Linked DNA regions of Homo sapiens. The protein of the gene in region 2 purifies or fractionates together with the protein of the main gene of each other region. This does not show direct contact. Each region holds a gene or a part of one and is shown on either strand. Other genes may lie near its edges.

What was found. The genes of interacting proteins can lie anywhere in the genome.
Region 1: the proteins of SCIN (region 2) and CORO2B purify together in Homo sapiens (co-immunoprecipitation; one large-scale study listed by IntAct). This does not show direct contact.

Annotation. Positions count from the first base shown.
Region 1 is NC_000015.10:68,721,957-68,725,270, reverse strand, and holds part of CORO2B (coronin-2B), read right to left. Parts: intron 1-3,314. UniProt on the Homo sapiens protein: May play a role in the reorganization of neuronal actin structure.
Region 2 is NC_000007.14:12,569,067-12,572,823, reverse strand, and holds the start of SCIN (scinderin), read right to left. Parts: upstream 2,105-3,757; 5' UTR 2,038-2,104; coding exon 1,839-2,037; exon of another isoform or gene 1,443-1,838; intron 1-1,442. UniProt on the Homo sapiens protein: Ca(2+)-dependent actin filament-severing protein that has a regulatory function in exocytosis by affecting the organization of the microfilament network underneath the plasma membrane.

The sequences.
Region 1 (3,314 bases), on a different chromosome or scaffold from region 2:
CAGCCTCCCGAGTAGCTGGGATTACAGGCATGTGCCACCATGCCTGGATAATTTTTGTATTTTTAGTAGAGACTGGGTTTCACCATGTTGGCCAGGCTGGTCTCGAACTCCTGACCTCAAGAGATCCACCCACCTCAGCCTCCCAAAGTGCTGGGATTACAGGTGTAAGCTACCATGCCCGGCTTGTGCTGATAATTTAGAACTTTCTAAAATGCTTTGTATCCTTCTCTTCTTAAGGAGGCTCAGGATACAGAATGGAATCTAGCTTTTTCCCTACTGATGAGGAACTATGACAAGAATACCAAAGTTTGCACTGGTCAGGGATTCATGTACAGCTATCCTGGCAGATCTTCACCCCAATGACTCTCTAGCTTAACCCGCCTCCATTTCTCCTGTAAAGCATATTGACAGATGTCCACAAAACGCCGAGCCCTGGAAGGCAGCAGGCTCCTTGAGGCTCCTGCACACCTGAGTTGAATGTTACCCACAGTCAATTGTGTTTGGTCTCAAACTTTCTGGTGTGAATTACATTTGTTATTGTAATTGCATAATTTAATGAAATATAATATAAATTGATGAAATGAGCACAAAAAGAGAGTTGTTGTTTCTATAAAAACTTAATTAAATGCTTTAGAAAATCTTGATAAAGATGATGCTAAAAAAACTGTGGCCGAATTGGGTGTGGAAGATCTAGCCCTAAAAGACTGGAGAATATTCTATATCTTGGCTGATGGTGGCTGCATGACTGTGTGTGTTTGTCAAAACTCTTAAACCGACACACTACAGAGGATGAATTTTACCATAGGCAAATTATACCTCAATGTCTCAAAAAAAGATGAGAGAAAACATTGTAAAAACTAGGACTTTGCTTTCAGATGAACTTTAAATTATTTTTCTACCTAAAAGAAATGGAAACTGGAAATGGGAGTTAAGGTGTGATTTGTGTGAAAGACATGGCAGATTCCAACCAGGGAGGGCCTCCTTGAAGAAAAGGTCCTGGTCCTGCATCAAAATATGCTAAATGAATGTATATGTTTTATTTTTATTATTTATTTATTTGTTTGTTTTTGAGACAGAGTCTTGCTCTGTCACCCAGACTGGAGTGCAGTGGCGCGATCTTGGCTCACTGCAACCTCCGCTTCCCGGGTTCAAGGTATTCTTCTGCTTCAGCCTCTGGAGTAGCTGGGATTACAGGTGTGTGCCATCACGCCCGGCTAATTTTTGTATTTTTAGTAGAGACGGGGTTTCACCATGTTGGCCAGGCTGGTCTTGAACTCCTGGCCTCAAGTGATCCACCCTCAGCCTCCCAAGGTGCTGGGATTGCAGGTGTGAGCCACCACCCCGGCCTACTTTTATTTTTTAGGGATAGAGTCTTGCCATGTTGCCCAGGCTGGACTCAAACTCCTGGGCTCAAGCGATCTTCCCACCTGAGCCTCCTGAGTAGCTGGGACTAGAGGGGTGCCACTACACCTCGCATGTTTTATGTTTAAAACAAAAATAAATGGTTTAAAGAAGGTATCGGCCGGGCACGGTGGCTCACGCCTGTAATCCAGTACTTTAGGAGGCCAAGGTGGGTGGATCACGAGGTCAGGAGTTCAAGATCAGTCTGGCCAAGATGGTGAAACCCCATCTCTACTAAAAATATAAAAATTAGCCAGGTGTGGTGGCAGGTGCCTGTAATCCCAGCTACTCGGGAGGCTGAAGCAAAGAATTGCTTGAACCCGGGAGGTGGAGGTTGCAGTGAGCCGAGATCATGCCACTGCACTCCAGCCTGGGAGACAAAGTGAGACTCCATCTCAAAACAAAACAAAACAAAACAACAACAACAAAGAAACCAAATGTATCTATTGGCTGGGCGCCGTGGCTCACACCTGTAAGCCCAACACTTTGGGAGGCTGAGGCAGGTGGATCACCTGAGGTCAGGAGTTCAAGACCAGCCTGGCCAACATGGTGAAACCCTGTCTCTACTAAAAATGCAAAAATTAACCAGGCATGGTGGTGGGTACCTGTAGTCCCAGCTACTTGGGAGGCTAAGGCAGGAGAATTGCTTGAACCCGGGAGGTGGAGGTTGCAGTGAGTCAAGATTGTGCCATTGTACCCCAGCCTGGGTGACAGAGCAAGACTCTGTCTAAAAAAAAAAAAAAAAAAAAAAAAGAATGTATGTATCATTTTTATGATTCTCTCCTTTTGTTTTTGTTTTTTTGAGACGGAGTTTCACTCTTGTTGCCCAGGCTGGAGTGCAATGGTGCAATATCCGCTCACTGCAACCTCTGCCTCCTGGGTTCAAGTGATTCTCCTGCCTCAGCCTCCCGAGTAGCTGGGATTACAGGCGTGCGCCACCACACCTGGCTAATTTTGTATTTTTAGTAGAGACAGGGTTTCACCATGTTGGTCAGGCTGGTCTTGAACTCTTAACCTCAGGCAATCCTCCCGCCTCAGCCTCCCAAAGTGCTGGGATTATAGGCGTGAGCCACCGTGCCCAGCCATGATTGCCTCCTTTAACTAACTTAAAAAAATATAACTTAAAAAAATATTTTTTGTTAACTAACAAACCACCAGTCCCAGTTACATCTGTTGAGAGGGATGACGTGCTATTTGCCTTTGCACTAAATGACTCTACACACTCTTGCGTCTTCCAAGTTCTCAAAATTTCTTTGCATTGTTTTTTGGTCCACTTTTGTCAAAAAAACCGCTTTAGTGAGGTGTAATTCACACACCATAAAAGTCACTCATTTTAAGCTTACAATTCAGCGATTTTTAGTAAAGTTCCTGAGTTGTACAATCGTAGGACTTTTCCCTCGCATCAAGCTGTCAGTTGTTTCCTCACACTTAGATCAATGCGTCCACCTTTGACAGCCCCACTTTCTAACTGGCTGCTTCCGAACTGCTACGATGATTAAAACTGTGGATAAAGGCAGAGTCAGCAGGCTTTGAGAAAGCTTCTTCCCAGCGAGGAAGATGCACAACTTTGGTGTAGATTGTGGCATCTGTTTTGTCTGCTCTGAGACCCTTTAAGCTTTTCCTCCAGGTTCTCAATTCTGATTCCATAGGCAAGTCTACAGCGAAATATTGCTTGATTTAACTACTATTCAACCCTGCCTTCTCCAGACCCAGTGCCAGAACTGAGCTCAGGCCCTTGTTATTGCCCTCCTGGGCTATCACAATGACCCCTGTGTCTCTATCTTCAAAGAGTAGAGTTCTTTTAAAAACAAGAAAATAGCTGGGCGCAGTGTCTCATGACTGTAATCCCAGCACATTGGGAGGCGAAAGTGGGAGGACTGTTTGAGCCCAGGAGTTTAAGACCAGCCTGTGCA
Region 2 (3,757 bases):
TACTGAATGAATTTGCTTGTTATTAACATGTTATTGACTTCAGTTTTAGCATGTCTTTAAGATTATAAATGTTTCTGCCCAAACCATTTTCTATTATATTTTTGAAATTTATGGGCATCAAGTGGATAATTAAGTAGATAATTAAGTGAATAAGGTGAATCTGTAAACCCTACAAAATATAGTAGTTAAGAGGACAACTTGGATAAAAATGTATAGAATTAAAGAATTGTGTTCAAATCTCCCTTGCGGTCATCTGACAAAGTCAAACTTAACTGCTGTCTACAGTAAGATATGGCATTATTTCACATTTTAATTTACTCAAATGGCAAATGTGGCATTTCAAACACTTTCATTCATGCTAGATTTAAGTTCTGCATGGAAAGTCCTCTGTAAGGACATCATTATTCTATCTGGCATCATTCATTCTTGAACATGGGTTATAAAAGTTTCAGTCTTTTCTGGCAGAAAATACAAATAGATGACTGTGTATTACAACATTATAATAGGAATAACAGCAATGCATCAAGAAGCCAAAATGTGTTCAGAACTCAGGCTGAGCCTTCTCTGCCTCCTCAAGCTAACACAAATTTTTGACTCCAAATGTTATAATTAAAAGTCTTATCTTCATCTACGTATTTTTCATTTCTCATTTCTCAAATGCCTGTTCCAGGTGTTTGCCAATGTTTAGACAGTCACTACTCAATGTTTTCTATTATTTTGTTTCTTAAAATCTTCAAATGTTGGAAATTACAGTGTTGGCTTTCAGGGACTCAAAAATGTGTAAGTGTGTGTGGTTTTGTGTGTTTTCCTCCTAAGCTCAGGGATAAAACTAAACAAACACGAGTACTGGGCAGGCTAGCTAGTTTTAAAAGAAGGCAAAAAGGCTCAGAGAATCGGCATGTTGTTAGACAGGGTGTGCCCACTGGCACAAGACCTCCTGGGGAGAGGCTGGACATTCAGGATGTTTATGAGTAAAAGTAGAAGGTGGAAAAAGAACACACAAGGCCCAGTGTCCTGACAGCCTGGCACGAACGCAGCTCAAAATAATTACTACTGCTGAAGGAGCCGTTTCTGTTCCATCTTGTGTCCTTGCTAAAATAAATAATAAATAATAACAATAAAGCAGTCTACATAAATATATGAAATACCCATATAGAGCTATTTATTTGTATATAAAATATCTGTATTTTTTTCTTACTTCTATCTGAGGACGCCAGCTTCCGAATGAAGCGGAGTTTTTGTCTACCAGACCCACAAGCAGCATGGTGCGGGTAGAATCCTGTTTTAAAGAAGCCCAGAACAATAATTCCCGCAATCATAGAGAAAATAAGCCAGTGCCCGAAAGCAACAAATAAAAATAATGTGTGAAGAAAAAGAAAAGGACTTCTTCCTAGCGGCGGCAGATGCCCCCAGACTTTATGACTTCCTCTCCATCCCGACAGGGAAAGCAGGACTGAGTTTGTCGGAAGGTGAGCGGGGCTTGGCCAGAGACGGTGTGCGCTGAGGCAGCGGCCCTGGACAAGAGTGGCGTTTGGATACTTGACGGTGAAAGGGGAAGAAGCCAGTCACCAGCTCCAAAGTCCAGGAACTACACCTGGCAAAGGTCAAAGCCTGCGAGGTAAGTCAATTGCGGACAACGCCTGAGCCCCGCGTTTGCAGCCGGCGAGTTGACTTCGGTAGGGAGAAAGTGGCCGGCCCCAAAGGGCAGCCCCGTGGGGGCGCGAGTGGCTAGCTCAGTTTGCGGTCCCCTTTACTCCCACGCCTGCAAATCTCAGACCCCTACGCCCTCCCCTCGCCGGCCTTGGTGCGTCGGGGTCCCGCCGCCCGCCGTCCCTTACCGAGCCAGAAGTGCAGGTGGTAGGTGAAGCCTCGGCTCGTCTTGGCCGTGTGCAGCACCAGGTAGGCATCCCCGACGTAGAAGTCGCCGTGAGCGCTCTGGGGCACGGGCACCAGCTCCAGCTTCTCAATCCTCCAGACCTGCAGCCCCGCCTGCTTGCCCGCCCGGGCGAACTCTTCGTGGTATAGCTCCCGCGCCATGGCTCCTGCACGCGATGCTCCGGGGGACGCGTGATATCGCTGATCTTGGACTAAACCGAGAGCAGCAGGAGGAACCTTATTCGCCGCCACTTTATAGTGTTTGCCATCCGGGGAGGCGGCGCCCTGAAACGGGAGGGGCTAAGTGCCCAGGCGCGAGTTGACAGAGGAGACGATCGCTTCCCACGGGGAGCGCAGCGCTGGCTTCCAAGCTCCCACGCCTTGCCCCAGGCCAGGAGCGGAATCGGCGTCCCAGAAGTCTTGAGATTCAGAGGGAGTTTATAGTAACTCGTGCCAATGCCTCCTCCAAGGAAAGACATTTTCTCTAGCAATAGACGAAGAACATTAACGGTTAAAACTGCTTGGCACTCCTTTGTGCATACCCATCACTACCGTCCTGCATATTTCCCCTTCTCTCGCTAATCCTCTTATTTCTGGATCTCAGTTGTGCCTGGCAGGAGGGGTGAGGTGAGGAAAGAGCGCGCCAGCCCTGCAGAGTTGAGTCAGCGTTTACTCGGGTGGAGCAATACCTGTTCTTTCTGGCCCTCTAGAATAATTCTTAGAACAAGGCTTCCTCTGCTAATAGCAACACCTGCCGTTAGGCAGCAGAGGAGTGTGCCACATTAGCATGCTGGAATAATTTTAATACATCCTTCTTTAAAAAATGGGCTTTTTGAGTAACAAGCATCCTAATGATCAATTCTGTCATTTCATTGGGCAATCTCTGCATTCCTGACGACCAAAGTTTCTGTCTCGATCTTCCAGTTTGAAAATACCATGAAAAACAGCATGTCAGATTTCTTGGACAGGAAGAAAACCTGGAAGAATGGCAGTATTACCCCAGGTGACAGAGCTCTGTAAATCTCAGAGTTCAGGAGCTGTGGTTGAGCTCTCTTAACACCTGCTTCCTTTGGCCAAGAAAGATGAAAACAACAACAAAAACCCAGCAGCCGCCGTCCTGAGATGTTCTCTGCAGGGCTGTTTGTGGCTGTAATTTTATGCTTGGCCGGACTTCTGGGTTACCTGTTACCTAGCTTCAAGGTGATAATTTTCTTTGTTTTACCTACAGGTTTTGCTTTTGCAGCATGGCTAAAACACTATGGAATACAGATGGAAATTTTACTCTTGATTTGGCATTCATTTAACAAGCTGGTATAGCAAAGGATTCTGTTACTGAAAAAGGCAAATCACTCAGGATGTATAGAGTAAGAAAGCTGAATTTCATGCATGTAAAATTGTTTTCATTCAATTTCTCAAATTACATGAATCCCTGGAAGGTCAATAATAATGCAAAATTAGATTTTTTTCCTTAATTAAATTATGTTTTTAATAGGTTATTACATGACCATGGTAAAAAAATTAAAAGTACAAAATGTGTGCAATAAAAAATTATCTCCATTTCACCCTGCCACCCAGTTGCTTTCCCCAAAGGCAATTACGTTACCAGTTTCTTATGTATTTTTCCAGGCACTCAAATTTTGTCAACAAGAATATAGGTAATGTAGTTATTTTAAATTTTTAACAGAAAATGTAACATATAACCTTTTCGAATCCCCCCCCGTGTGTGTGTGTGTGTGTGTGTGTGTGTGTGTGTGTGTGTGTGTGTCTGTGTATCAACACACAGTACTCATAGAGCTACCGGTTTTTACTGACCATATGGTATTCCACTTTATAAACATACTAATTTATTTTGTCTATCTCAGTTCATAGTGTAGGGGCCAAG